Homo sapiens: one gene and its partners. The protein of the gene in region 1 purifies or fractionates together with the protein of each later gene. This does not show direct contact. Each region holds a gene or a part of one and is shown in the gene's direction. Other genes may lie near its edges.

Evidence for each region.
Region 2: the proteins of KLRB1 (region 1) and HKDC1 purify together in Homo sapiens (affinity purification with mass spectrometry; one large-scale study listed by BioGRID and IntAct). This does not show direct contact.
Region 3: the proteins of KLRB1 (region 1) and CMTM8 purify together in Homo sapiens (affinity purification with mass spectrometry; one large-scale study listed by BioGRID and IntAct). This does not show direct contact.
Region 4: the proteins of KLRB1 (region 1) and MROH1 purify together in Homo sapiens (affinity purification with mass spectrometry; one large-scale study listed by BioGRID and IntAct). This does not show direct contact.
Region 5: the proteins of KLRB1 (region 1) and ABCC1 purify together in Homo sapiens (affinity purification with mass spectrometry; one large-scale study listed by BioGRID and IntAct). This does not show direct contact.
Region 6: the proteins of KLRB1 (region 1) and SLC20A1 purify together in Homo sapiens (affinity purification with mass spectrometry; one large-scale study listed by BioGRID and IntAct). This does not show direct contact.
Region 7: the proteins of KLRB1 (region 1) and PANK4 purify together in Homo sapiens (affinity purification with mass spectrometry; one large-scale study listed by BioGRID and IntAct). This does not show direct contact.

What each region holds. Positions count from the first base shown.
Region 1 is NC_000012.12:9,604,739-9,609,435, reverse strand, and holds the start of KLRB1 (killer cell lectin-like receptor subfamily B member 1), read left to right. Parts: upstream 1-1,519; 5' UTR 1,520-1,596; coding exon 1,597-1,681; intron 1,682-4,697.
Region 2 is NC_000010.11:69,240,832-69,244,583, forward strand, and holds part of HKDC1 (hexokinase HKDC1), read left to right. Parts: intron 1-2,350; coding exon 2,351-2,534; intron 2,535-3,752. UniProt on the Homo sapiens protein: Catalyzes the phosphorylation of hexose to hexose 6-phosphate, although at very low level compared to other hexokinases. Has low glucose phosphorylating activity compared to other hexokinases. Involved in glucose homeostasis and hepatic lipid accumulation.
Region 3 is NC_000003.12:32,237,029-32,241,800, forward strand, and holds the start of CMTM8 (CKLF-like MARVEL transmembrane domain-containing protein 8), read left to right. Parts: upstream 1-1,651; 5' UTR 1,652-1,944; coding exon 1,945-2,091; intron 2,092-4,772.
Region 4 is NC_000008.11:144,241,533-144,245,661, forward strand, and holds part of MROH1 (maestro heat-like repeat-containing protein family member 1), read left to right. Parts: intron 1-836; coding exon 837-983; intron 984-1,069; coding exon 1,070-1,096; intron 1,097-1,961; coding exon 1,962-2,084; intron 2,085-2,330; coding exon 2,331-2,410; intron 2,411-2,689; coding exon 2,690-2,804; intron 2,805-2,911; coding exon 2,912-3,007; intron 3,008-3,623; coding exon 3,624-3,728; intron 3,729-4,129. UniProt on the Homo sapiens protein: Lysosome fission factor. Recruited to lysosomes by RAB7 (RAB7A or RAB7B) at scission sites and homooligomerizes to mediate the constriction and scission of lysosomal tubules. May sever membranes by inserting amphipathic helices into one bilayer leaflet.
Region 5 is NC_000016.10:16,120,187-16,124,315, forward strand, and holds part of ABCC1 (multidrug resistance-associated protein 1), read left to right. Parts: intron 1-1,788; coding exon 1,789-1,988; intron 1,989-4,129.
Region 6 is NC_000002.12:112,648,716-112,652,844, forward strand, and holds part of SLC20A1 (sodium-dependent phosphate transporter 1), read left to right. Parts: intron 1-3,986; coding exon 3,987-4,083; intron 4,084-4,129. UniProt on the Homo sapiens protein: Sodium-phosphate symporter which preferentially transports the monovalent form of phosphate with a stoichiometry of two sodium ions per phosphate ion. May play a role in extracellular matrix and cartilage calcification as well as in vascular calcification.
Region 7 is NC_000001.11:2,519,798-2,523,926, reverse strand, and holds part of PANK4 (4'-phosphopantetheine phosphatase), read left to right. Parts: intron 1-2,126; coding exon 2,127-2,209; intron 2,210-2,611; coding exon 2,612-2,826; intron 2,827-3,020; coding exon 3,021-3,204; intron 3,205-3,512; coding exon 3,513-3,605; intron 3,606-3,972; coding exon 3,973-4,126; intron 4,127-4,129. UniProt on the Homo sapiens protein: Phosphatase which shows a preference for 4'-phosphopantetheine and its oxidatively damaged forms (sulfonate or S-sulfonate), providing strong indirect evidence that the phosphatase activity pre-empts damage in the coenzyme A (CoA) pathway.

The sequences.
Region 1 (4,697 bases):
CAACCAACCCCATCAAAAAATGGGCAAAGGATATGAACAGACACTTCTCAAAAGAAAACATTTATGCAGGCAACAGACACATGAAAAAATGCTCATCATCACTGGCCATCAGAGAAATGCAAATCTAAACCACAATGAGATACCATCTCACACCAGTTAGAATGACAGTCATTAAAAAGTCAGGAAAAAACAGGTGCTGGAGAGGATGTGGAGAAATAGGAACACTTTTACACTGTTGGTGGGACTCTAAACTAGTTCAACCATTGTGGAAGACAGTGTGGCGATTCCTCGAGGGACTAGAACTAGAATTTGACCCAGCCATCTCATTACTGGGTATATACCCAAAGGATTATAAATCACGCTGCTATAAAGACACATGCACACATATGTTTATTGTGGCACTATTCACAATAGCAAAGACTCGTGAACCATCCCAAATGTCTATCAATGATAGACTGGATTAAGAATATATGGCACATATGCACCATGGAATAGTATGCAGCCATAAAAAAGGATGAGTTCATGTCCTTTGTAGGGACATGGATGAAGCTGGAAACCATCATTCTGAGCAAACTATTGCAAGGACAGAAAACCAAACACCGCATGTTCTCACTCATAGGTTGGAATTGAACAATGAGAATATTTGGACACAGGGAGGGGAACACCACACACCGGGGCCTGTCGTGGGGTGGGGGGAGGGGGGAGGGATAGCATTAGGAGATATACCTAATGTAAATGACAAGTTAACGGGTGCAGCACACCAACATGGCACATGTATACATATGTAACAAACCTGTACATTGTGAACTTAAAGTATAATAATAATAAAAAAAGGTAAAAAAAAAAAAGTAGACACATACTATAATCACCTTGAAAAAAAAAGAAAGTCTTTCAAAGAGATAAAAAATTCCATATACTCCACTTCCTACAATTCTGGCAGTTTCCAAATACTTTTACTTATGTGAAAATGCTATCATATCCAAGAGTGCCTTTAGAGCTAAGCTAACAGTAGGCTACTGATCTTTAGCACATTGCTTTTTCTGTTGTGTTATTCAGGGGGCTTTCTCACATTTATGTTTCCATTTTTCACATTTCACAACTTTCTTTGGAGCACAGATATTTCAGGAAGATTTTAGAGCCTTTGAATAGCATTATGGACTTTTTTGCATTAATTTTTACTTTTACAAAATTGTGCTAAATATTATTTCTGTTAATTAGTGAGTTTTGTTGGGGGCCCCTTAAATTGGAACCCCAGGCTATGCCTCATTTGCTTCACTCTGGTCCTGGCCCTGAGAGAGGAACACAAAAGGGATGGTTAGAAAAACAAGAACAAATGAGCCTCCCAGAATTTTCTCAAACAACAGGCCAGTTAATTAAGGAAAGTAGATATTACATAGCTAGGTATAATGAACATGCAGTCAGTGGATTGTCTCAGTAATTTATGGAGATAACCACCAACAAAAAGTGTATGTGGGTGGGGACAAAAGAGAGACAACAAAGTACTGCAGGCAGAAAGCTTCCTTTTGCTGATTTTGCCTCACAGAATTGAGAGTTTGTTCTTACACACAAGTTTAATGCCACCTTCCTCTGTCTGCCATGGACCAACAAGCAATATATGCTGAGTTAAACTTACCCACAGACTCAGGCCCAGAAAGTTCTTCACCTTCATCTCTTCCTCGGGGTAAGTGGCTTTAATTTTCCTTTCGGCATTTGTATGTCTTCCAGAATTAGATCTTCCTGTTACATTTATGGCTTTAAATCATTGCTTTAAAGATGAGCAGTAGTTTTATATTAATGTTTAACGGGTGTTGCATGGCTTGCCTGTAGATAATCACAACTTTGGGAAAAAAAATTTAAACCTCATACATTTATTTTTTTCAATCAAGTTAGCATGAAAAGCAAACATCACTTGTCTTACTGAGCCTTGGTTAAAAGACTCTGAACACTTTAGGCTACCCTGGGCACACTGCCTATTGGTTACCCCTGCTCTACAGGGATGGAAAGAAGGAAGAAAGAAAGAAAGAAAGAAAAGAAAGAAAGAAAGAAAGAAAGAAAGAAAGAAAGAAAGAAAGAAAGAAAGGAAGAAAGAAAGAAAGAAAGGAAAGAAAGAGAAAGAAAAGAAGAAAGAAAGAAAGGAGAGAAAGAAAAAGAAAGAGAGAGAAAGGAAAGGAAAGAAAGAAAAAGAGAAGGAGGAAGGAAGGAAGGATGGAAGGAAGGAAGGAAAAATATTTTACATGTATGAACTAAGGAATATTTAAGACACATTGCAAACTTGCTGTAATAACAACCTACGTTATTCCAAATTCCTCTACAAAATATCAATACTATGATTAAGTCCCAGTGCATTTTCATCCATAATATTCCTTTCAGAATACAACGTGTAGGCCAGTTGCAGTGGCTCATGCCTGTAATCCCAACACTTTGGTAGGCTAAGGTGATTTGCTTGAGTCCAGGAGTTTAAGGCCAGCCTGGGCAATGTGGCAAAACCTCATCTCTACAAACAATACAAAAAAATAGCCAAGTGTGGGGCACGTGCCTGTGGTCCTAGCTACTCGGGAGGCTGAGGTGAGAGGATTGCTTGAGCCCAAGAGATCAAGGCTGCAGTGAGCTGTAATTGTGCCACTGTACTCCAGCCTGGGTGACACAGCAAGACTATCTCAAAAAAAAAAAAAAAATATATATATATATATATATATATATACTTTTTATACATATATTTTATATATTTTATATATATATATATACTTTTTATACATATATTTTATATATTTTATATATATATATATAAAGTGTAGGCTTAATGAGTAACATACTTCACTCTCTCAAGAGAGGGGAACACTTTCTGGAAAAAAAATCATATTCAAGATCAAAGATTTGAATATCATTACTACCTGATAGTTTCTAGTTTGAAAAGTATCACAGCTTAGAAAGAGACAAGCCACAAAAATACTCGAGCATATCAGTAACGAACCTACTTACCATTTGTTGAAACTGGCACTTTCCTGTGTCTCTGAAGAGTTAGCATTCTGAGTGAAAGAAGCGGGGAACACCAATGTGAGGTAACACATGATGGATAGCATGGCCTGTGGATGGATGGGAAGAAACTAGAAACTGAGGCAGAAAATCAGCATGAAATTATTATGACACATTATTATTTTCTGATATCTAACTGAATTTACTATCATTGATAATATTACAATTGTTTACCAATCTGATATTCATTCCATGTCATGCCAAGCATTTGACTTGTGCTGTTTTAAGACTGTTTAAGTTTTAAACTATTGAATTCTCAAAGTTTTAAGTCAAGAAGAAAGTCTTAGAGCCGTCAATTAAGTTTCAGTATAATTTTCACATAAGAGTAGAGGAAATCAGAGGGTTCTAATAACTATAGGGAGGATTTGGTTGAGTAACATTTTTTTTTAAAGAAAAGAGTAAGTCTTTCTTTTCCTCTATTCATATCTAGCAAAAGGTGGAAAGTGGGCTTTTGTCAGAAAATGAATATAGAGGTAGTGAGACTCTTCCCAAATGTTGCTATGATCCCAAACCAATGGATGCAGAAATTTTTTCTACTTGGATTGTAATAATTATCCTATAAAATGTCATTCTGAGAGTAAACCTGAAGAAAAAATAAGAGTAGAATAAAGCCAGAGCAAAATATGTGACTATAGAACACTGGTCTGATATTGAATGACAGTAAAACCACTATTGGTCTCTGGCTAAACTGCTGAGGCTGTGGTCACTCTGTAGCAAGCACGGTGATTGTGTCTAAGGCAGTCAACAAAACCAGAAGGAGAGATGTGAGTGATAACCGATCTTGCTTATGGCCAAATGGCCAAGGGTTTGGTCTGTTAGAAAAGTGGATAAGGTGTTTGCAAAAATGCCCCTAGAGTTTATTCATTCATTAAAAAATAAGCTCCTACTCTGCACCAGGCATGCTGTGAATACAGCAGTGAACAAAATAGAGAAAATTATTTTCCTTCATAGAGTTTATAGTAAAATAGAGGCACACTTGTGGAAGACAGTATGGCGATTCCTTAAGGATCTAGAGCTAGAAATACCATTTGACCCAGTGATCCCACTACTGGGTATATACTCAAAGGATAATAAATCATGCTGCTATAAAGACACATGCACACGTATGTTTATTGCGGCAGCATTCACAATAGCAAAGACTTGGAACCAACCCAAATGTCCATCATTGATAGACTGGATTGAGAAAATGTGGCACATATACACCATGGAATACTGTGCAGCCATAAAAAAGGATGATTTCATGTCCTTTGTAGGGACATGGATGAGGCTGGAAACCATCATTCTGAGCAAACTATCACAAGGACAGAAAGCCAAACACCGCATATTCTCACTCATAGTGGGAATTGAACAATGAGAACACATGGACACAGGGCAGGGAACATCACACACCAGGGCCTGTTGTGGGGTGGGGGTAGGGAGAAGGGATAGCACTAGGAGAAATACCTAATGTAAATGACGAGTTAACGGGTGCAACAAACCAACATGGCACATGTATACATATGTAACAAACCTGCACATTGTGCCCATGTACCCTAGAACTTAAAGTATAATAAAAAATAAAAATTAAAAAAATGGAGGCACACCATCAATAAAATAAACAAATAACTAAGTCAGTATAAAAGATGAGACGGTGTTAATGTTATTGAGAAAGATTTGAATATAGG
Region 2 (3,752 bases), on another chromosome or scaffold:
TTCGGCGGGAAGGGCACTGCACTATTTAGGAGAAGCAACATAGGGACATGAAAAATTCATTCATTCATCCATTCGACAAGTGTTTACTGAGCACCCATTGTGTGCCGGCCCCTGGGCTTGGCACTGGGTTTGGAGTGGGGAGTTCCTGTGCTCCTGGAACTTTCAGTGGGGAGGTGGGTGAGAGGCCCAGAAGGCCTAGGCTATTAAGATAATTTCAGGTGGTGGTTAGCGTGATAAAAAAACAAAAAACAAAAAACAAAGAGAGTGATGTGACTGTGAGTGGGATGAGGCGTCAGGGAAGCCTCTCTGAGGGGTGGCATTTGAGCCGGGACCTCAGTGATGCAAACCAGGGAGCAAGGTGGAGGCCCGAGGGTAGGGAGTCCCTGCCAAAGGAAAGAGGACACCTACAGGCTTGGAGATGGGAAGGGGTCCAGGGAGGGGGCACTGGGGGAACCCTATAGCCGAGTGGTGTCCGGATGAGGTGAGTGAAGGCTGAGAGTCGGAGGCCATTCAAGTGAGAGGCAGAGGACAGACTGGGCAGATTGCACAGGATGTGCACACAGTCACTGTAAGGTCACCGGCTTATCCCCTGAGGGAGACTGGAAGGCACTGGGGGACTCTGGGTGGGGGATGGATAAATGGATGCGCATTTTATTTTATTTTTTTATTTGAGACGGAGTCTTGCTCTGTCGTCCAGGCTGGAGTGCAGTGGCACAGTCTTGGCTTACTGCAACCTCTGCCTCCCAGGCTCAAGCAATTCTCCTGCCTCAGCCTCCTGAGTAGCTGGGATTACAGGTGCCCACCACCACGGCTGGCCAATTTTTTGTATTTTTAGTACAGATGGGGTTTCACAGTGTTTGCCAGGCTGCTCTCAAGCTCCTGACCTCAAGTGATTCACCCGCCTTGGTCTCCCAAAGTGCTGGGATTACAGCCATGAGCCACCACGCCCGGCCGGATGTGCATTTTTTAAAAGCCCATTTTGGCTGCTGTGTGGATAATAGATTACTGGGGACAAGAGTGGAAGCAGGGTGACCATCCAAGAGACCACTGGACTGTCAGGCAAGGTGCACTGCAGCTGTGGACCAGAGAGGTCGTGGTGCAGTGGGGGTTTCCAGTGGGTGGTCTCCACACCAGAGCGAGGGGGTCAGCTGGAGGAATGTGTGGGAAGGCAGTTTGGGGTACAGTAAAGCTGAATGGCTCTGACTTATAGGTTGTTCTTGAATATCCCCTTCTCCTTTTCCCATTCCTTTACCACTCCTGGGGAAAGTTCTTCTGAATTGCTTTTTCTTAATGTCCCTCAAGACCCTCCTCAGCCTGGCTTTCCCAAAGGGCAGGTTTTTAAACCTGAGGGGCTCCCTCCACCCTTCTGTTTCCAGGAGCCTCAGAATGGTTCAGGCCCTTGCCAGTCATGGCACCCGCCTGTCACTGTGGCTGCGTCTGGTAACCACAGATTGGGGGGGCCACGCCTAAACAGTGTCCGTGCATTTCTGAGAAAAGCTTTTTCCAAATATTACATTCTGCTTTTCTACATTTCTCATTTTCCATGTTGGCATTTAAAATACTCATACCAGAGTATCAGCCAAGGGAAGATACTGAAGAAAAAAAAAAAAAAAAAAAAACCCGAAAATTCAAACAGCTTTATTGAGGCATAAAAGTCCTCCGATTTTAGGTATACGATTCAATGATTTGTAGTAAACGTATAGTTTTGTAACCATCACCACAATCCGATTTTAGAACATTTCTGTCCTCCCAAAAGAGTCCAAAAAGATGGTGCCCACTTGCAGTCATTCCCCAGTGCTCAAGTGTTTGAGGCATTTCCTTGGAGCGATTTTGTGTTTGCATAACGGAATGTTGCTTTCTTAGGTGGTAGCTAATCACAGTCTAAGATAAGGATGCAGCTTATGCTAGAAACAATTTGTGGCAGGCCATAAGTAAAGAATATTTTTAGTATCAAATAGAGAGGAAGCTAAGTAGCTTAAGGAAAGAATTTTCAAAATTACCCTGGGTTGGTGATTTTTTGAAAAAAATATTTACAAGATTATCTTCATTTGTCCTCTTGTAAGAGCGCTTCGTCAGCTTTCATCCATATTCATCAGCGGACTTCTTCACAATTGACTCCATTCAGAACAGCAAACCCTGAGCACCCTGAGAAGTGCAGACTTGACATGTCAGCTGTTTTCCCCATGTGCTTGGGGCTTGCCCAAGCTGCTTCCCTCAGCGAGAGCCAGCCCCCAGGGAATGAAAAGCACTTTGTGGTACATTGAGGAGGACTCCCCAGCAGTCAAGAGTTCTCTGTCTGTGCCCAGCTGGGAGTCCTCTCTCTGCATATTCTCTCTGATCCCTGGTTCAGGAACTGGCACCAATGCGTGTTACATGGAGGACATGAGCAACATTGACCTGGTGGAGGGCGACGAGGGCAGGATGTGCATCAACACAGAGTGGGGGGCCTTCGGGGACGACGGGGCCCTGGAGGACATTCGCACTGAGTTCGACAGGGAGCTGGACCTCGGCTCTCTCAACCCAGGAAAGCAACTGTGAGTTCCCTTCTGGTGTTATCTGGGCATCGGCACCAGGCAGTGCCTAATCACTCAGGTCCCCTGGCTACCTGGGAGGCTTTCCAGTTGTGACTAGCTATCCATCACAACTTTCTTTCTTTTTTTCTTTTTCCTTTTTTTTTTTTTTTGAGATGGAGTCTCACTCTCTAGCCCAGGCTGAAGTGCGGTGGCACGATCTTGGCTCGCTGCAACCTCCACCTTCCAGGCTCAAGCAATCCTCCCACCTCAGTCTCCAGAGGAGTTGGGACTACGGGCATGGGCCACCATTCCTGGCTAATTTTTGTATTTTTTGTAGAGTCAGGGTTTTGCCATGTTGGCTAGGCTGGTTTTGCACTCCTGAGCTCAGGCAATCCTCCCGCCTCAGCCTCCCAAAGTGCTGGGATTACAGGCATGAGCCACCATGCATGGCCCCATTACAACAAATTTATAAGGCATTGCTTGTATTTCAGTTTCATCTGACAAATGAGGAAATAGAAGCCAAGGACATTGAAAGATTTCCCTAAGTCATAACCCTAATAACCCTAATTCTAATTCAGTCAGTATTTGTGGGTTACGTATGTGCATGATAGGCACTGAAGATAAGAGCACTCGGACGCTTGGCCGCAGAACACACCTGGGCAGTGAGGAGAAGGCAGGCACAGCCGAACTCGTCGTGTTCGCATGTCCCCCAGCCGCCTTGCTTTCTCGGAGGCCTAATCACTCAGCAAGTGGTGACTCTGGCAGGACCTTCCCTCTGTGTTTGCTGTCCACAATTTTTATTTTGATGCTCAAATTGTTTCAGATTTGGCCAAAGGAAGCCTCTGAAGCTGCCTCCTGTGTCCTTTTGACATGTTCCATCACTCTTTAAGTACTTCCTTATTTCCTGGCACCGTAAGACGTTCCCGGCTCATGTCGCACTTTCCTAGCCCCAGCCCTGGAATCAGCCATTTTGTCAAGACATGCTGGTGAATTTCAAGCACCTTCTAGGAGCGATTCAAACACTAGAACTGTGCACCCGGGAAGCACATTCCACTTTGGTGGCACCTACTCCAGGCACATGCCTGTGCTCTAGTGACCCATTGCAGTCATGTCCCAAGGACGTGGTGTCCATTTTTTGAATTTTATCATCTTCACCCATTTCCATTTTACTTAAAATAAATTCTATTCCTTCCAGGCCTGGTGGCTCATGCGTGTAATCCCAGCACTTTGGGAGGCTGA
Region 3 (4,772 bases), on another chromosome or scaffold:
ACTCATTAACAGTTTCTCTAAAGCAGCAGCTAACTTCAGCATGCATCAGTGTCTTTTGGAGGGCTTGTTCAAACACAGCTTCCTGGCTCCACCCTCAGAGTTTCTGATTCAGAGGGTCTGGGGGTGGGGCTTGAGACCTTGCATTTTTGATAAGTTCCCAGGGAACTTACCTGCTGTTGGTCCAAGGACCACTTTGAGAACTACTGCTCCAGGGAGAAGTGCTATATTTTAAATTTTAAGAATTTACCCACCAGCCCAAGGTGCTTACCAAATGCACATGGATGGAATCTCTCCAAATCTACATCTTTGCCATGCTTTTGAAGCCTTAACTTTTACTCCTGGAGGTCTTCCTGGCTAGGCCCTAGACTTAAAAGACACTAATTCCTTGTTTTATTTTATTAGATTGTCGTTTTTGCTTTCTTCTCAGCACACTTGATAAGACACTGTGAAGAAAATGTCCCTTCTGATCTCGTTTTTAACCTGTCTTGGAACAGATCAGCAGAAATGCCTTCACTGTGAATCAAAGATACCCTCGATTTATAGCCAAAGATTATTTCCTTTTCTTTTGGTGGCTTCCAGATAAAATGTTTCTTGCTACCCTTTCACAAAATAGAAGGAGGGACCAAGCGGAAGATAATCTTTTTGTTCAGAGGTCCATCTGTCAAAGCCTGCATTTTAGAGATGGCATTACTGAGGTCCAAAAACTAGAGCCACTCGCTCTGGGTCATACAGCCGATAAACGCACGCAGCCGAGCTCAGTTCTTCCCTGACCCTGTTACAAACTGCCTCACTAAATGAGGACCCCCATCCCCTTCCCATGCCAGGAAAGCACAGCTCATTTGTCCTAAAGTTAACATTACACAAATCACACCCTTCAAGCCTTCTTGAAACATTTTTTTTCCCCGAGGGTGACGGGACGGTTACGCTGATTCATCCTGGCCAGGGACCCCAAACATCTCCCCTCCTCCGGCCCAGGCGCCGTCACCCAGGCTCCACCGGTCCGCGGGACAGAGCCGCGGAGAGCGCCTGGAAGCGTCGCGCCCTCAAAGCCAAGCGATTAAGTTGGTTCCTCAAATTGTTCCCGACAGGAGGGGCAGGAAATAACACCGGGCTCTGGCGGCGGCCGCAGCAGGAGGGGGAGAAGAGCGGGCCGTCTCCCGGGCAGTGCTGGCGGCCTCTCATCGATCTCGGGTCTAAGGTCCGGCCGGGTCATCATTCCTGCCATTTCCACAGCATTCGAGGTACCACATCACCCCCTGCCTCGGTCGTCGCTCAGTCATTCCCTCCGCGCCGAGTCCTGGAGCGGCGGAGTCCCTGGAGGCCTGGGTTTCCTTAAGGGGCCCCAATGCCCGCAGCCCCCGACCCGCCCAGGTGGAAGGAAACAGGCTGCGGGCCTGGGCCAGGCGGGGCCTGACAGAAGTAAAGGCCGGGAGGGGGAGCGGAAGACGGCCAGAAGGACCCCTGCGCCCTCTCCTCCGCGCCGCCCGCCAGGCTGCCAACCCAGCCACCCTGGGTGCGACGCGGCGCCTTCTCCGCCGCTGGGAGTCGGGCAACAGGTGAAGAGGGCGGGCGTCCGCGGCGCCTCCGCGGGGCGGTCCCTCTCCTGCCCGCCTCCCGCCCGCCCCTCTCCCCGCCCCCTCCCCTCCTCCGGGCCTCCACCGCCTTCCCCGGCTGCCCGGCAGCCTCCCCTCGCTCGCTCTCCTCTTCCTCTAGGGCCCCAGCGCAGCTCGGGAGCCCGCGCACCGAGGCGCTAGGGGCACCGCGCACTAGAGGGACACCCGCCGCGCCTGGACAGCCCCCGGCGGGCGCCCCCCTCGCACCTCCTGCCCCGCGCGGGCCGCGCTCCCCTCCCCCGCGCCTGTGTCCCCAGGGCGCAGGGCCGCGCGTCCAGCCCCAGACCCGCCGGGGTCCCTGGGGACGCGCCAGCCCGGCAGTGGCTCGACGATGGAGGAGCCGCAGCGCGCCCGCTCGCACACAGTCACCACCACCGCCAGCTCCTTCGCAGAGAACTTCTCCACCAGCAGCAGCAGCTTCGCCTACGACCGGGAGTTCCTCCGCACCCTGCCCGGCTTCCTCATCGTGGCCGAGATCGTGAGTGCCGACGGGCCGGGGGTGGCGGGGGGCTCAGCTGGACCCCGGCGCGTGCTTCCGCCGTGCTTCTCGGGATGGAGCCTGCTCAGATCTTCCCGCGGGCTTTAGGGAACCGTTTTTGCTCAGCCTCGCCTTCTTCCCAAAGTGAAAGACTCTAAACAAGGTCCAGGAAACTCGGGCTGTCCTGGGAAGAAAGGGTTGTGATCCTCAGGATGTCTTGCTGTGGGAGAAATTCAGCTTGTTGGGTCCTCTCGGTGGCGGCGGCAGATCCTGGGAGCAGGAAGCTTGGCTTAGTGGCTATTGAGTTTGTGTTGAGTGTCAGAGACACCTGGTGCCTTTCTCACCTGATCTCCACGTGGATGGCCTCCTCCCTGAAAATAAAGCTTCCTAAGATCAGGGGAAGAGGAAAGGGCTTCTTTCTTTTCCTAATTATCTCCCTGGTAGTAACATTGAGGTGAGTCAGGAAAATTTTACTGAATAAAATCTGAGTGCCATAACCTATTTTAGGACCAAAGAGGTCTTTTGCATGGTGCTGTGCACATCCTGGTTTAGGCTCAGAACATTCCTGGGAAGGAGGCAGGGCATGGGCGTTCTTCTCTTCATTGGAGGGCATAGAGGCTGAAAACTCACGTGATCTTCCCAGAAGTCCCAGCCAGTCCTTCATAGCTGAGAAAGGACTGGAGTCCTGTCAGCAGTTAGAGGTGGTCACTGTTTGAGTCTTCTTCGTGTACCAGGATCTTGTCAAGCCCTTTAGATGTCCTCATACCCTCGTGTAATCCAACGACCACCCTCCCCTGTGAAGGCCTAGAGAGGGGACGTAAATCACACCGGTGGATGGTGAAGCATGGATTCAAACCCAGGCCTGCCTTTCTGCAGGGCCGTGCTCATAACTGCAAGCAGTTGAGACAGCTTCCAGCTGCCCCAGCAGTGCCCCTCTGTCATCTCTCACAGACTTTTGTTAAATATTTGGGAATTGAAAATGAGCCTATGTGGGAGTTAGAGAATGGGCACACCATCATGGTGCAGAAGTGACTGAAGACCTGGGCGGTTCCTTTGAGAAACCTGAAGTAAATCTTGTGTACCTCAAGTAGCTTGCTTGCTCCCCCAGTCTCAGATACCACCCGGACCTGCTCTATGAAGCCCCTGGTGGTCATAATGCACATAAGGTATGAGAAGTGTTGGCTTAGCTCCTCTCCCAGCTGGTTCCCTCAGCGAGTATTGAGGACTTCAGGAGACTCAAAAGCTGAAGGTATTGGAATCGCCTTGCAGGGCCTAGCTTTTAGGAGTTCAACAAATATTTGCTGTGCAAATGAAGGAGTTGGCAGGCTCCTCTGCTTCAGCAGCGCAAACAAAAGCTAAAATGACAGAGATGGGCCTTCTACCTTGGGGTGGATTTGGGCCAGGCATGAAGTATAACGCCTTTGGGTTTTTTTCTGATTTATTATCGATATGCTCTGTGTACTGCGCTTTTTCAGGAAATACAAAAGTGAAAGAAATGTAAGTGGCCCACAATCCCATTACTAGAAATAATCACTGTTGACATGTTAGCATGTATCCTTTTAGATTTCATTAAGCGTTTTGAAAAAGATGGGAAAACATGTAAGCAAAATCACCCTTATTACTACTATAGTTTTTATTTTTGACAGAGCTAATTATGCACCTTTTTTGTTTGTTTTGTTTTGTTTTGAGACAGGGTTTTGCTCTGTCTCCCAGGCTGAGGTGCGGTGGCACCATCATGGTTCACTGCCGCCTTGACCTCTTGGGCTCAAGCGATCTTCCCATCTCAGCCTCCCAAGTAGCTGAGACCACAGGCATGCACCAACACACTTGGATAATTTTTAATTTTTTTCTAGGGACGGGGTCTCTCTGTGTTGCCCAGGCTGCTCTGAAACTCCTAGGCTCAAGCAATCCTCCTGCCTTGGCCTCCTAAGGTGCTGGGATTGTAGGCATGAACCACTGTGCCCCACCTTATGCACATATTTTAAAGATTCGGTCCTACAGGCAGAAATATAAGTTTCTCCCAGTGTCTTCATCTCTTTGAGCTCTAAACAACGTGTTTATAATGCTGTTTATTGGTGTTCCCTCACCCACCCAGTCATAGACATTATCCATTGCCTTTCTACTCTGAAAGATGAGGCTTTAGCTGGGATGCCCTCTTCCCTGCCTCCAATTATACATACCCTCTTCCTGTCTCCCAATATAGGTCCAAACACTTCTGATGGTTCAACTTAGGAATTTTCAGCTTTACAGATGTTGTAAAAGCAGTATGCATTCAGTAGAAATCATACTTCGAATTTTGAATTTTGGTCTTTTCCCAGGCTAATGATATTCGGTAGATATTTTTTCATGATGCTGGTCAGCTCTCAGCCACCCATGCCATCACCAGCGCAAACCACCCATCCTCTCCAGCATGCTGTGCTGCTGGGTGATTCTGCCAGCTGTAGGCTAACCTAAGTGTTCTGAGCACGTTTAAGATAGGCTAGGCTTAGCTATGATGTTTGGTAGGCTAGGGGTATTAAATGCATTTTTGACTTCGGATACTTTCCACTTAGGATGGGTTTATCAGGATGTAACCTCATTGTTAAGTCAAGGGGCATCTGTATAGTCTTCAGGTGATTTGGGTTAGATCAGCAGCCAGTGTTGACCTATGACACTGTAAATACCACTTACAACTGACCCAG
Region 4 (4,129 bases), on another chromosome or scaffold:
GTGCAGGGCTGGGGACGGCTGTCTATCCACAAGTTTGAGGCTCAGGGGGTGCCCTGCGGGCTGGAGTGGGGCAGGAAGCTGGTTGCGTCCCTGGACCAATTTTTGCTCCTGCATTCCTTCCATGGGCAGGACCTGTGCGTGGGTGCTCCCAGTGGGGAGGGCGGCAGAATGGCCTCCCGGAGGCAAACGTAGCTGTGGCCAGGGCCACGTCTCTGCCAGGTGTGGGTGATGAGAGGGGTTCGCGGCTGGGGCAGGCCTCTGCCCCCTGGTGGCTGGCAGATTCTGCGTTCTTGCCAAACCACCAGCTGTGCTGGCGGAGCCTAAGCCTGGTTTAAGGAAGGAGTGGGCCCCTGCTGCAGGCCCCCAACCCGGCTGTGGTCCCTCTATTTCCTGTCTCCCGTAACTGTCCCAGTTACAGCATCTCAGGGCTGGACCAAGCATGCAGGGCTTCCCAGCCCTTGCTGTGCGGATGGAGGCTGATCTGCAGCGAGCAAGGGTGGGGCCTTGAGCTCTTCTCAGCTGCCTCCTGCCTGACTCTCTCACGTGGCTGTGCTGCCTTGACCCTCGGCCCTCTGCTACCTCGGCCCTTGGCCCTCTGTTACTCGGTACCCAGTGGGCCCATGCCTGGCTGGCTGCCTGTGCTCCTGCCCCTTGCAAAGAGGCTCTCCCCATCCCCAGATTCAGGTGGTGCCGTGCACGGCTGGGTCACACCTCTGCTGTCACTGACTGGCTCTGGCCCTTCTTCTGGGAGGATTTCAGGAGTTTCTGAGCCGAGGATTCCCGTCGGGGAGTGTAATTGTGTAACTGAAGTCCCGCTGGTTCCTCTGGCCTCTCAGGATCGAAGTGAGAACGAAGTGGAGAAGGTGAAGAGTGCTCTGATCCTGTGCTATGGGCACGTGGCGGCCCGGGCCCCCCGGGAGCTGGTGCTGGCCAAGGTAGAGTCAGACATCCTCCGGAACATCTGCCAGCACTTCAGCACCAAGGTGGGCACTGCGGTGGGCCTGCCACGCAGGGGAGCTGGGGCTGCCGGGGAGTCACGTCTTAACTCATTTCACTTTTTGTTGTTCAGGTTCTAGGAATAAAGGTAGAAACCAAGGTACAGTGTGTAGGAATTAAGTGCTGGACTGGCTTCTCTCCTCTCGGCTCTCCTCTGGGCGGGTTGAGCTTCATAGGCAGAGGCCGGAGGGGGAGCTTGGAGCTTGCTGGGGCTTCCTGGTCTCCGTCCCCAGGAGGCGTTCGAGAGCATCACCAGGGCTCCTTCCCTGGCCTGGGCCCTGGACGGCAGTGGGAAGAAGGGAGGCGTCTGCGCCTCCGAGGGGCCGGGTCGTGGGCTGTCGCCCCCCAGGGAGTTCAGCCAGCCCCACCCGTCCCAGGACAGCTGGAACCTCCTCTGGCTCTGCTCCCCAGTGCTCATGGGGGCTGTACCTCCCCGGACCCCAGTGAGCACCTAGGAGAGGGGCCAAGGCCCAAAGCCAGTGGAAGTGGCAGTGGAGGCTCCACTGGCCCCCAAGGCCTCACCCCAGCCTCACTAACAAGTTTCCCTTCTGGCCTCCCTGGCACTAACCTGACAAGCCCCTCTCTCAGGACAGTCAGCCCCTCCTTGAAGAATAGGCCCTCTGGTTCTCCTGCGGTGGCTGGGAGGGCGGGGCTGTTCTGAGAGGTTCTTCTCCCAGCCCTTCAGCACTCCCCGGAGGACTCTTCTCCTGCTGTGGGGGGCCCTCTGGTCACACCACACAGTGTCTGCTCTGTGGCCTGTCTTCTCTGGAGTGTGACATGGGGGAACCCCTGGGTGGCCCCCCGCTTCTTCCACATGGACTTTGATAAGCAAAAGGGCTGGCTAGAGAGCTCCTTTGAGAGCAGAGTGCAGCACTTCTGGTTTCAGAGGAAAGAAAAGGGGGTATGCGCGGGTTCAGCCCTGGAGGGCGGGCGTGGGCGTCTCCTGTAGCCCTGCGTCCCTGCAGGACCCAGCCCTGAAGCTGTGCCTTGTCCAGAGTGTGTGCATGGTCAGCCGCGCCATCTGCAGCAGCACCCAGGCTGGCTCCTTCCACTTCACCCGGAAAGCAGAGCTGGTGGCACAGATGATGGTGAGCGTGGCCGTGGCCTGGCAGGTCCTCAGGCAGGTTCCTGGGAGACTGAGGCCAGAGGTGGGGACTGGGGCACTGAGGGTGATAATGTGAAGACAGCCTGGGAACATGGGAGGGGCCATGTAGGGACACATGGGGCTCTGCTCCTCGGGCCCCGCCTGTCACTTAGGCTGGGGGACAGAGCTTGACCAGGGAGGAGAGCTGGCGTTTCCTCCAAGGGCTGAGTCATGCACCTGCCTCACCCAGGAGTTCATCAGGGCAGAGCCCCCGGACTCCTTGAGGACACCTATTCGGAAGAAAGCCATGCTCACCTGCACTTACTTGGTGTATCCTTTCCTGCCTCTGCACAGGCCCGTGCAGCTGCGTGTGTGCGTGCATGTGTGTGCATTGTGTGTGCACGTGTATGCGCGTGTGCATGTGCGTGTGTGTGCCTGTGCTTGCGTGTGTGCACGCCTTGTGTGTGCGCATGCTGCATGGGGTGCCGCCATGGTCTGGAGCAGAGTAAACATGGCAGTGGCTGTGCTGCCCACACAGGCCTGGAGGTTACTGGGTGTCTGAGTTTCAGCCTTAGGATCATTGTCTGGGGCCCTTAACTTGCCTCTCAGCTCCGTGGAGCCAGCGCTGGACGAGCAGGCCCGGGCGGATGTGATCCATGGCTGCCTGCACAGCATCATGGCCCTGCTGCCTGAGCCCAAGGAGGAGGACGGAGGCTGCCAGAAGGTATCCCTGTGTTTCCCTTGCCTGTGTCCACATCCGTGAGAGTGGTGGGAGGCCACTGTAGGCTGCGGGGTCACTGGTGGGGCTGGACGGCCTGGCTCTCCTTCCAGTCCCTGTATCTGGAGACACTGCACGCCCTTGAGGATCTGCTGACGAGCCTCCTGCAGCGGAACATGACCCCCCAAGGCCTGCAGATCATGATTGAGGTGTGCAGGGGGGAACTGTCATGGGGATGGGGATGGGGGCACAGAGGGCACTCCACCTGGCTGCTGGCCCTCTCTCCACATGTGGGCACCACAGGGACAGTTTGGTGCTCTCTGCACTTGGGGGTGGTTTATGAACAGGCAGGTGCACCCCCTCCCATCTGGGCTGGCAAGCAGTTGGGGAGGCCCTGACCCAGGTGGGACCTCTGGAGCCTGTCCTCTCCCGCCACTGCATGGCGCGGGGATGGAGGGGCCCACGGGTACCCATGGCTCCTGACTGGGGGCCGCTACCAGGGTGGTGCTAGGGTGGGGCCGACCCCCATGCTCGGAGTGTGTTCTTCTAGGACCAAGGTGGCCTCCACCCTGTCCCTCCACAGTCCTGGCTGGCCCTGGATCCACCTGGGCTGGGTTGTGTCTGTGACCAGACTGGAGGACAGAGTGGCAGGGCCAGAGGAGCTACGGTGGCCTAAGGCTGGCACCACTCTGGGTCCCCGGCTTGGCCCCCTGTAGCCCAGGAAGGATGGCCTGGCAGGGACACTGAGCTGGCCCACGATGCACAAGGCTCCTGCCCCCAGGGCTGCCCTCTGAGCAGTACCTGTGTGACGCCCCTCTTCCTCAGCACCTGAGCCCATGGATCAAGTCCCCAAGAGGTCACGAGCGGGCGCGGGCCCTGGGCCTGAGCGCCCTCCTGCTGCGCTACTTCCTGGAGCACCTGCGTGTCAGCGTGAGTACCTGGGTCCCTGGCCCGGGTGCTGCTGCCTGTGTTACTCATGACCCAGAGTGTGAGCTGCCTTCCTGGCTTCCTCTGGCCGCCGCCCCAGCTCAGGCCACAGTCCTCTTCCTTGAGACCTGGATTGAGGGCCTGTCAGGGCCAGGAGTTGTCAGGGATGGCTGCTCAGAATAGAGTCCGTTGTCATCAGGGGTCCACTGTTAGCCGGAAGGAACATGCACCTCTGGTCTCCAGGGCTTCACTGTTGAGCGCGGTGCTTGATTTGGTTGGCGATATTTTTATCATGTTCCAGAAGCATCTATTTGTTTTAATGAGAACTTTTATCAGGAACAGGTATTAGATTTTGCTAAATATCTTTTTATCATCTGTCAGGATTATTCTAGGCTTTCTTTTCT
Region 5 (4,129 bases), on another chromosome or scaffold:
CCAGTACACCTGGCCCAGGGCAGGATGCAGGGAGGCCGAGTTCCTAGCAACCCTTTGTTAGTTTTCCCAGCTCTCCTGTCGATAAGCAATTGTAGGCACCTTGTGGAATCAGGAACCCCGGGCTCACCAGTTCCTTTTGCGTAGATGAGAAAAACCTAGGCTAGGAGAGCGCAGTGTCCTCACATGGCTGGTGCAGCCTCTGATCCACAGCTCCACAAAGCTTGCAGAAGGTGGTTGGCTTTTGTTCTGAATCTAACAAGACTTATCGGGAGGCTCTTGGTGCCTGGCACTGGCTGAATGCCCAGGTTGGGGGAGGCAGAGCAGATGAAGCATCTGCCCGCGAGGGTGGGTGGAGCTGCTTGTGAAACGTATCATCGTAGCCCGGGAGCTGGGACACTGAAGCCCGGAGAAGGTGCTCATGGAGGATGGGAAGGGCTTCCCGAGGAAGTGACATCTGTGCTCCCATCTGCTGGGTGATGAGGAATGGCCTGGACGGGATGGGCATGGTGGGTGGAGGCAGGCGGCCTGTGTGCAGGGAAGGAAGGGGAGAGTTACAGGATGAGATGAGTTGAGGGAAGAAGCATGGTTGGCAACTCTAACAGCGCTGGGAGGCCATCGGAGGGGGGTGACGAGATTGACCCTATCCTCATGGGCATCTCAGCTGGGCTGAGTGTGCTGGAACCGGCCATTGCATGGACACAGTCACTCCTGAGGGGATGTGATCAACAGGCGGAATTCTGTCACTTAATGATAACAATAGTCACCAGCTAACTGAATGCTTACTGTTAGGTCAAACTATATGAAACTGCTAATACTTATTTCTTATCTACAGAAACAGCTATTTCCTGTGGTTCAACCTAGTATTACCAGGCACTGTGCTTAGTGACATCATGCATATCTATATGATTTATGAAATAATGTGTCCACGCAAATACACATCACATGTAAGACTGTAACTCTTACATGTCACCCTCACAATGACCCCGTGAAGCAAGCTTTGTTTTGTTTCGTTTGTTTTCTTAATAATATTTTATTTTTGTAGAGATGGCATTTTGCCATGTGCCTGGGCTGGTCTCAGACTCCTGGCCTCAAGTGATCTCCCGCCTCTGCCTCCTGAAGTGCGGGTATTACAAGCATGAGCCACCCCACCTGGCCGAGCAAGCCTTGTTGTTCCCATTTTACAGATAAGGAAACTGAGGCTTAGAGAAGTAAAGTGTTAGTCGTGTTTATATTGCCAGTCAGTAGTTGAGTCAGGATTTGAACTGAGGTCTCGTTGACCTCAAAGCCTATGCTGAAAACCACACTGCTGGTTCCAGAAAACCCTAGAGGTGAAAGGCTTCAGAGAGGCAGTACAGGGTAGAGGTTAGCACTTTGCAGCCCAGATGGCCTGGGTTTGAATCCCAGTTCTGCCCCTTGCTAGCCATGTGACCTTGGGGAGGAGATTAACTAGCTTCTTTGTGCCTTAGTCTACCCATCACATATAGGAATGAGCACCTCAGGTTTTTTGTGAGGATTGAATGAACTGATGTTTGTAAAACTGCTTAGAACGATGCCTGGGGCTGTGGGCTTTGTATAAGCGTGAGCTATTATTGTCACTGTCCTTGTCATTGGTGGTGCTATTCCTGTGGTTCACCAGGTGAGTGGGCACCCCTGTGAGGGCAGCCCGGCTCTAACATTTTGCCTCCTGGAGGTATCGGTTACGTCTAGATGTTCTCCAGCACAGCCCTGCCCTGGGAGGATGGCAGGAGGGAACCTTCATCAACTCCCCGCGTCTGTTCTCTACCCCAGAGGTTCTACGTGGCTTCCTCCCGGCAGCTGAAGCGCCTCGAGTCGGTCAGCCGCTCCCCGGTCTATTCCCATTTCAACGAGACCTTGCTGGGGGTCAGCGTCATTCGAGCCTTCGAGGAGCAGGAGCGCTTCATCCACCAGAGTGACCTGAAGGTGGACGAGAACCAGAAGGCCTATTACCCCAGCATCGTGGCCAACAGGTGGGCATGGTGGGCCTGCAGGAGCGGGTGGAGGAGGCCGCCTTAGCACCTTGTCTCTTTGCCTCGATCTTTTCCTCGCACCTTGAGCTGGGTATAAAGCCAAACCCCGGCCTTGCAGAAAGGATGGAGAGGCTTGATGAGCGCGGAGGACAGATGAATCATTAAGAGCAGACAGCGGCACTGTAGACATGCAGTGCCCGCGGCATTTAAGTGCAGGGACACAGCTCTTCTGGAGTCAGAAAGCCCTGCAAGTGCTTCCCGTTAACTGTCATCCTAGTGATGCAAGACTGCCAGCGACCGACTCTGCTATTGAGTATCTTCATACCGCTGTTCCCGTCTGGGGGTGATCATGCACCCCTGGGTGATGTGTGTCAGAAGCAATTTACTAATACTAAGCTAAACCATATGAGATTGTCATCTTGTGGGCCAGATGTCATGGCTCACGCCTGTAATCCCAGTACTTTGGGAGGCTGAGGCAGGAGGATCCATTAGATTCCAGGCCAGCCTGGGCAACATAGCAAGACCCCCATCTCTCTTAAAAAAAAAAAAAAAAAAAAAAAGTAGCCCATCATGGTGGTGTGTGCCTGTAGTCCTAGCTTCTCGAGAGGCTGAGGCTGGAGGATCGTTTCAGCCCAGGAGTTCAAAGTTGCATTGAGCTATGATTACACCACTGCACTCCAGCCTGGGTGACAGAGTGAGACCCTGTCTCTGGAAAAACAAAAAAAGGAGATGGGGGTGGGAGATTGACATCTTGTGGATCACAGATAATAGCATCAATCCAAAAGAGGCAGAAGTTTGCTAATTATTTGCTGAATTTAGAGAAGTGTCCCTCTCACCCATTTGCATCCTTATAGACTTTTCTGAAAAAGTGACAGCACCCCAGAGGTGTCCCATAACCATTAGCCCGTCTTACACACTCTAATCCCATAGCGTAAGTCTGGGTGGGCTAACCCTGAATGATTACAGACCTTGACTTCCCTTCAGAATTTTTAGGGAGTTTGTCACAATCTGGCTGTGTCTGTCGGAGTAGTGAGGATCAGTCACTTGGTTCATAAGGGCTGCAATGGAGAAAAGATCAACACCCCATCTTCCTAGAATGCTTTATATTTTAGAACATTAAAATAATAGTTCTAGTGCTATATGATATCATACGAAGCCTAGCTTTAAACAAATAAGATGGCCAGGCGCGGTGGCTCACATCTGTAATCCCAGCACTTTGGGATGCCAAAGTGGGTGGATCACCTGAGGTCAGGAGTTCAAGACCAGCCTGGTCAACATGGCAAAATCCCATCTATATTAAAAATACAAAAAAATTAGCCGGGCATGATGGTGGGTGCCTGTACTTGGGAGGCTGAGGCAGGAGAATCACTTGAACCCAAGAGGCAGAGGTTGCAGTGAGCCAAGACCGCACCATTGCACTCCAGCCTGGGCAACGAGAGCGAAACTCTATCTGAAGAAATAATAGAAGAGAAGAGAAGAATAAAATAAAAAGTAAAATAAAATAGTTCTGATGGTACATGATACCATACTAAACCTAGCTTTAAACAAATAAGATGACCAGGCACATTGGTTGACACCTGTAATCTCAGCACTTTGGGTGGCCAAGGCAGGCGGGTCACTTGAGCCCAGCAGTTCGAGACCAGCCTGGGCACTCTAGGGAGACCCTGTCTCTAAAAACAAAACAAAAAACCAAAAATTTGCCAGGTGTGGTGGCATGGGCCTGTAGTCGCAGCTACTCAGGCTGAGGCAGGAGGATCACTGGAACTTGGAAGGTTGAGGCGGCAGTGAGCTGTGATCATGTCATCCACACTCCAGCCTGGATGGCAGAGTAAGACCCCATCTCAAAAAAACAAAATGACAGAAAACATGATTTCTGTTTCTATTTTAAAGGGTAAAATAGTATATTTTAACACTTTGAAATGAAGAGTCTGGGCTTGGGAACGTTACAATGATGTTTACTCGTACTAGTTACGCACTCCCCTCCCAGATCTGTCTCGTAACAAGAGACTGTTATTTTCTACTTGTTTTTAGCCAAAAGGCCGAGAAACGATGGTTATTTTAAATCCCTAGTGTCTCTTACAGTTGATGTCTTCTTAGTATTTAGGAATTTCCAGGACATCTTTTTGTTGTTGTTAATGCAC
Region 6 (4,129 bases), on another chromosome or scaffold:
TTGAAAACTTGAAATATCTTTAGCCTGGTATAATATGAGAGTAAACAGTTCATTGATATTTATGGACTCCTAAGTTTGGTACTGTTTTATTCAGCAGACAGGTACGATAAGCATCTACCTTCCCACTCCCTACAACTGTAGTGTATGATACTGGGATGCTTAAATTAGAGGCTCACCAGTAGTCATGGACCAGATTTTTTTGTTTTTTTTAGAGTTTTCATTAGAACTGTATATCTTGCTACTTAGCAGAGAGTCAGAAGCATTAGTAGGATCTCCTGTTGTGAATTCCTGCTTGGTAAAGGTTTATGCTGGCCCTGTGTTGATTATTGAGTAGCAGATCATTTTGTTTTTGGAGAGGGTTTGTGTGTTTCACCTCCACAAAACACTTATTCCCCGGAAGGGGAATGGTGGTGCTCTGAGGTGCAAAGAGGGATTCTCAGGTGCCCAGAACCTCTCATTTGAGGAATGCATACCCCCACGGTGTTATTGAGGGCTGAAGTTAGATACGGTAACTGATTTCTTAATTGTATATTTCCTATATGGGTATGGGAATGGGCATGATCAAATGATGAAGAATGATTGGCATAGTGTTTAAAACAATATTGACTTTGAGGATCTTCCCCCACTCTGTGCACGTGCACACACACACTCTTGCAGGCCAATCCCTCAGTAACAGGAGTTTTCAGTTGAGTATGAATATTTCTGCTTCCTTTTAGGAGTTAAATTTCAAGAAAATATCCTTAGACTGGTAAGCTTTTGGTATCTTAACTGCTAAAATCTGAATATTTGACCATTAAGATATATTCCAACTCTTAAATGTCTATCTTGAAAATTAAGATTAACATGACCTTTTTTTTTAATTTCAAAAAATTGCTTTTAAACATTTTCTATTCTCTGAATGTTTGTTCCAAGCATGTTGGGGATAGGTGGGAACAGACAGAATGGAGGTGAGGTACTTCTATTTAGGACTGGCATCGCACAGAAGGAATATGCTTCAGTGCTCCTGTTGAGTATTTTTAAATTCTAGTCAAAGAAAATAGGGCTTTTGGCATTCTCATTAGTTAGAAATATATTTAGGATGTCTTCCCTTTTCTTTAGACAAAACCAGAATATCCAATATGTAAAAGTGAACTATTCTGGTGAAGATGGGGGGTTTTGTGAAGACCTTTCCTGTCCCACATGACTAGACGATGAGGCATTCACATTATTTCCAGGTGAAGTTTTACTTGTGTGTTAGGTGGATCTCTACAATGATGAGACCTTTCTTGTTTTACCTTCTTCCTAGACTCTCTGGAACTTTTGATTTTTTTTTAACCATGAACCTGTATTTCACAATAAACTATTGGTATAGTAGTGTCATTCATACCCTACCCCATCCCCAACAACTTTGCGTAGAGAATACCTCAGATTTGTTTACCTCAGGGAATACTTAATTGGGCTATGCTATACAGGATAATAAATACACAGGCTGCTACTTCAGACTAGTCAATTACAATTTGATTTATGGATAATCATATTACGAAATATCTTTGAAAATCTATTGAGAAGTCCCCACATAATGTCTTTAAAACCCAGGAAATTTTTGGGGGTGGGAGTCTTGGGTTGGGTTTTTTGGAGCCTTTTTTTTTTTTTTTTGAGACGGAGTCTCACTCTGTTGCCCAGGCTGGAATGCAGTGGCACGATCTGGGCTTACTGCAACCTCCGCCTCTCGGGCTCAAGCAATTCTCCTGCCTCAGCCTCCTGAGTAGCTGGGATTACAGGCGCCACCACACCCGGCTAGTATTTTTGTATTTTTGGTAGAGACGGGGTTTCACCACGTTGGTCAAGCTGGTCTTGAACTCCTGACCTCAGGTGCTCTGTCCGTCTTGGCCTCCCAAAGTGCTGGGATTACAGGCTTGAGCCACTGCACCTGGCTTTTTTTTTTTCTTAAGCGAAGTCTCGCCTGTCACCCAGGCTGGAGTACGGTGACTTAATTGTAGCTCACTGCAGCCTTGACCTCCCAGGCTCAAGTGATCCTCCTGCCTCAGCCTCCAGAGTAGCTGGGACTATGGGTGTGTGCCACCACATCTGGCTAACTTTTTATATTTTATAGAGGTGGAGTCTTGCTCTGTTGCTTAAGTTGGTCTTGAACTTCTGGGCTCAAGCCATCCCCTGCCTCATCCTCCCAAAGTGCTAGGATTACAGACAGACATGAGCCACCACCACACCTGACCTGCATTTTCTTAAGACTAGTCTTTAGAATAAAAATACACACCTTAGTTTCCTAATCTTGTTGACTGCCCTCAGAGTTTGACCACCGTTGAGTTAGTTATTCAAGGATGCTTAACAGTTCTTGATTTCTGTATGCTATTGTTTTTGTTTTGGCTATTTCACTATCTGTTAACATTCTCTATTAAACTATAGATAAGAGTTAAATTTTAGAGTGGTTTTCAATGAGTGCTCATCTCTGCTAATTTGAAATGGTACCTTTACTTTACACATGGGTCTGAGCTTTCCCTTGTTTCACTGGTCTTAAGCTACTAACTTTCCAGTGTATTGATTATTGTTGGAAGCTGTAGGGTTTTACTTTCTGTTTTTCCTCCCCAAGATTTTCCACTGGAATTGTGATCAAGATAACATTAAACCTTTTAGGCTAAGGTCTTTATAAAGTTTTTAGCCTTCCCATATATGTATTCAGATCTTTGCTCCCAATTTTTTTTTTTTTCTGAGATGGAGTCTTACTCTGTTGCCCAGGCTGGAGTGAGGTGGCCCAGTCTCCACTGACTGCAACCTCTGTCTCCCAGGTTCAAGTGATTCTCCTGAGTCAGCCTCCAGAGTAGCTGGGACTACAGATGCTTGCCACCACATCCGGGCTAATTTTTTTGGTATTTTTAGTAGAGACAGGGTTTCACCGTATTACCCAGGATGGTCTCGATCTCCTGACCTCATGATTGTCCTGCCTCGGCCTCCCAAAGTGCTGGGATTACAGGTGTGAGCCACCGCGCCCAGCCTCCTCCCATTCTTTCGGTGTTTGACTTGGGTGTTCTCCTATAGAATTAATACATACTAGGTATGGTAGAATTCTTATTTTTAGTCACTGGCCTTACTGTTCCTTAAACATTTCAAGTTTTTGCCTTAGGGCCTTTGCATTTGCTGATATCTCTGTCTGGAACATTCAGCGCCCAAATAATCAGGTGGTTTGCCCCTTCTGTACCCATAGTTAATGTACACAGCTTGCTAGCTTACTACATTTATGTCATGCTTATTCCTTGACCCTCCCCACCCAAATGGTGCCCCCCCTTCCATCACTCTCCTCTTACCCTTCTTTATTTCTCTTCACAGCATTTGTCAGTACTTTACATTATTCCATACTAGAAGGTGAGTGTCAGTTCTATTAGAACAGGAACTTGGTCTTATTCCCTCCTATATTTCGGTGCCCAGAATAGCACTTGGCACACAGTCTTTTGAGTGAGTGGATGACCTTGTGCACAATCAGTTATTATCATTGAACTTCGGTAAAGCATTAATTGTGGCATCTTTGTCAGATGTTTAGATAAGATGGTTGGCGTACGCATAGTCTGCATGTTGTATTTTTAGTCTTTGAAGATATGAAGTCAGGTAAGCAACATCCTAACATAGTCTATTTCTTGACATCTCTTACAAACGTAGAGTATAGCCTATCCTCAGGTGTGTGCTGAAGTTTATATTAGGGCTTTTGGGTACCTTAGAATGTGGGTATTGCAATCTTTATTCAGGATGTTATCAGTCACTGGTACAGTTAGTCTTGTTATTAAAAGAAAAAAGAAAAAAAAACAGGTAGAAGTTGGAATTAGCCTTCGTAGGAAGAATTCCAGATGCAAATGCAGGAAAAACTCTGTTGTCCTTGGAAACTACTCTGGAGAGAGTTATTGGCACTATAATTCCCAAACCTACCCTGTTAAAAGATTCTGTGGAAATGGGTTAACCTTTATACCTTTTAAGATATTGATCTTAATGATGTTTTACAGGCAGATCCAGTTCCTAATGGTTTGCGAGCTTTGCCAGTTTTCTATGCCTGCACAGTTGGAATAAACCTCTTTTCCATCATGTATACTGGAGCACCGTGTAAGTACCTATCAAAATATTTAAATGTGAATTTAAAGTTGTTTAC
Region 7 (4,129 bases), on another chromosome or scaffold:
CTGGGAAGCCCCCTTCCCCCACCAGCTGTTGGCCTCAGGGCCGAGCGCGGGCAGCCCGGAGAGCCGCCAGGAGGCACTCCTGTCACTGCCTTGCCAGGCGCGGTTTGCTGTGATTCCGAGGGGTCCCTGAGCTCAGCCCGGAAGGGTCCCCGCCCGCAGGCGGTTCCCTCTGCTCTAACAGATCTCCCTGCTGTGCGTGCCCCTCGCGCCTCAGGTCCCGTTTTGTCCCCCCGGGTGTGGGGAGTAGGCAGACGGAACACTGGCCTTGCTGGGCCTCTCCGTGCAGGGGTCTCAGGGAGGGAGGATGCGTATCTTGCAGAAACCAACCCACCCCCACCTCTGTCCCAACCCCAGTACATCCTGTTTGGGCATGTATTTAACACAAAGAACCCAGGGCCTGAAACTGGATTTCTGTGACCTGAGAGTTTGTTTATACTGACTTTTGATGAGTCTCTTAAAATAGATCTTCATCCTCTTGCATCATCTGTCGTTTTAGAAAACGATTTATTTACTGAGGTGAGTCGGCGGCATGGTGCATGTTAGTGAGACTCTCCGGGCCCGGCCAGCACTGGGGGCAGGGGAGGGGATAAGGAGGCTTAAAGCCACAGGCTAGGGGATCAGATTGAGCCTGTGACGCGTCCACCAGACTGTACGCCAGCCGTCGGGGAGCCTGCCCTCACCACCAGGCAGGAGGTGCCCTGGGATGGCTGTTGTGGGGCCTGGACACGGTGGGTTTTGCTACATGAACAGCATTGGCTGTTTGCTTGGTGTTTCCAAATCTTTTTACTGACCTGAGTGCTTGTTCTCAGACATCCTTATAGTATTTTGTCAAAAAACAATAATTTGAAAATAACTTTAGCCTCATTACTCTCATGATGTGGGATTTTTGCCTCTTTTTGTCAGGCCCTGTAAGAAATGCACTGTGTTAAGTCACTATAGCACCATCCAGTGCCCTCCGTTAAGTCACTATAACACCACACGGTCCCCTCTGTTAAGTCACTATAGCACCATACGGTGCCCTCTGTTAAGTCACTATAGCACACACAGTGCTCTCCGTTAAGTCACTATAGCACCACACGGTCCCCTCCGTTAAGTCACTATAGCACCATCCAGTGCCCTCCGTTAAGTCACTATAGCACCATACGGTCCCCTCCGTTAAGTTACTATAACACACACGGTGCCCTCCGTTAAGTCACTATAACACACACAGTGCCCTCTGTTAAGTCACTGTAGCACCGCGCAATGCACTCAAAGTCACATTTTGTTTCTTTTTCTATTTGTCATTCATGTTGTTTCAAATCTATGAATACAACTCTAGCCTCAACAATGTCTGTTTTTTTTTTTAACTTAGAAGAATTTGTCCTTGAAAAGGCCTTCTTCAAGAATCTTTTCACTTTTCCCTGAAATCTGGTTCAGGTACATAGAGCCCCTTCCATTTCCTGATATTTATTCAACCTTTGATCACAGGCGGCATCCTGGAAGCCACAGGGCTTCTCGAGAGCATCAGAGAGACTTTGGCCTGTGGGGAAACGGACTTTGGTGGCCTCTGACTTCTGGCTACTTTTGGGGCTGGGGCTGCATTTTCTGCCTGGAGCCTCTCAAGAGTAGCCAGCGGCACCGTTTGCCTCTCCAGGGTAGGGGAGCTGCTCAGGCCCCGTTACCGCCCTGGGCTGTGAGGAGAGCCTCCTTTGTAAGCAGGGACGGTCGAGGGTGTACTTCTTAAAACGAAAACAGCCTGGATTTGTCAGCTTATCGCTTTGGGTCATTAGCAAGATCACTTGAAACTGAATTTTCTTAAAGCAGTGAGGATAACCAAGGTTACCCAAAGCAAGACAGCTCTCCCTTTCCTCTGCAGGACTTGGTGCCAAGGGGAAGCGGGACCTCTTGAGCTCAGTTTGGCCAGGGAGCTGAGGAGGAGCAGAATTTGAGAAAGAAAAGTGTAGATTTGATTGTTCGTTTTCCTGTCCTCTCTTTTGTGCCCACAGGGTTTTTAAGTTCCAGTAGCCCCAAACCCCTCATCTACAGAGACTTTAGTCTCCAGGACACCCAGAGAGTGTGGGGCATGGACCCCCAGGCCCCGCTGTGTCCTGGTCCTGAATCCTGCCCGGTTTGTGTCTCCCCTGCAGGCGGGTCGTTAACCAAGCTGGCCTACTATTCAACGGTACAGCACAAAGTCGCCAAGGTGCGGTCTTTCGACCACTCCGGAAAGGTGAGCCTGCACTGTGGCCACCCGGGGCAGGGCAGCCGCTTCTCTGTCGTCTTGGACCTGGCACTTGTCTCGCAGTCATCCCTCTGCTGCTGCAGACCTCGACTTTAGTGTCCTGGGAGTTTCTAGCAGGGACAGCCTCCCCTGCCTTCCGCCGTGTCCCTTCAAGACCCTTTGTAGGAACCTGCGCCCGCCTGTGCTCCCCCGGGAGAGGCTTCCGCTCCTGCTGGGTGGCCCTGAGGTCGCCACGGTCCTAGGCTCCTCCCTCTTGCCCAGGATTCTGCCTCAGAGCGCCGCCTGGTTGAAGGCTGGCGCGAACAGCCAGCTCCACTAGGGCAGGGTGCGCACAGCCCAGCCCGGCGCGGTGTCCCACACACATGCGGCCTCCCCTACTCTGTTTTCCAGGACACAGAACGTGAACATGAGCCGCCCTATGAGATTTCAGTTCAAGAAGAGATCACTGCTCGACTGCACTTCATTAAGTTTGAGAATACCTACATCGAAGCCTGCCTGGACTTCATCAAAGACCATCTCGTCAACACAGAGACCAAGGTCATCCAGGCGACCGGGGGCGGGGCCTACAAGTTCAAAGACCTCATCGAAGAGAAGCTGCGGCTGAAGTGAGTGGGGATCTCAAGGGCGAGAAAGGAACATGTGTCTGCCCCCGAGTCCCTGGGTGTCCCAGAGCCGCGTCCCTGGCGCTCGTGTGTCAGATTGCGCATGGGGCATGGCTGCCCCTTCGGACCAGGCAGGCTTGCATGGTTGCACCTGTCTGTGGCCCAGACTCTTTAAGGGGTTGGCGCTTCCTTTTCAGAGTCGACAAGGAGGACGTGATGACGTGCCTGATTAAGGGGTGCAACTTCGTGCTCAAGAACATCCCCCATGAGGCCTTCGTGTACCAGAAGGATTCCGACCCTGAGTTCCGGTTCCAGACCAACCACCCCCACATTTTCCCCTATCTTCTTGTCAATATCGGCTCTGGAGTCTCCATCGTGAAGGTAAGACCCGGCTTCATGAATGAATGAGTGGATGGTTTAGCCATAGTTTGTTAAGCCCTCGCTGTGTGCAGGAGCCAGGGCTGGGCACATGGATGGGGCCCAGTGGGCGGGAGGGGGGTGGCGAGGCTGTGAGCTCAGAGCCTCTGTGGGAGGGGCATCAGCGCCCCCAGGCTTGGCCATGAGAGTCCTCCCACTGGCGGTTGGGGTGGGGGCGGGGTTCACCCCAGCGCAGCACATGGGGCGGGGGGCGGGGGAGCCTGTGTGGCTGAGGGCCCACTGAGGGCACACCTGCCCTGGCTCTGTTGCAGGTGGAGACGGAGGACAGGTTCGAGTGGGTCGGCGGCAGCTCCATTGGAGGCGGCACCTTCTGGGGGCTTGGCGCTCTGCTCACCAAAACGAAGGTATGCGGCAGCTGCCAGAGACCTTCCAGGGGTCTGCGGAGATGTCTGCTTCCTTCCCCCGAAGGCCTGCAGCTGGGCGGTGCAAAAGCTGCTTCCGGGCCTCCCTCCTGACTCGCGTCAGTGGGTCTCTGGCCTCTGCGGCTTCACTCTTTGCGCCCTGAGGGTTGGGTGTCCCAGCAACCCAGAGCTTCTATCCTGGCTGGGTGGCCCGAGGGTCCCGCTTGCCGCCTCCTGCCTTTGGTCCCACGCGATGAGGGCCCATTTACCCCCTGCCCGCGCGTGCCTCCTGCCATGGGCTTGGTTTCTGGGGTCGTGGGGATTCCAGCAGCTCCTGGCGCCTCACCCGCCCCCTCGCCGTGTCCTGCAGAAGTTTGACGAGCTCCTGCACCTGGCCTCGAGGGGCCAGCACAGCAATGTGGACATGCTGGTGCGGGACGTCTACGGCGGCGCCCACCAGACTCTCGGGCTGAGCGGGAACCTCATCGCCAGCAGCTTCGGGAAGTCGGCCACCGCCGACCAAGGTG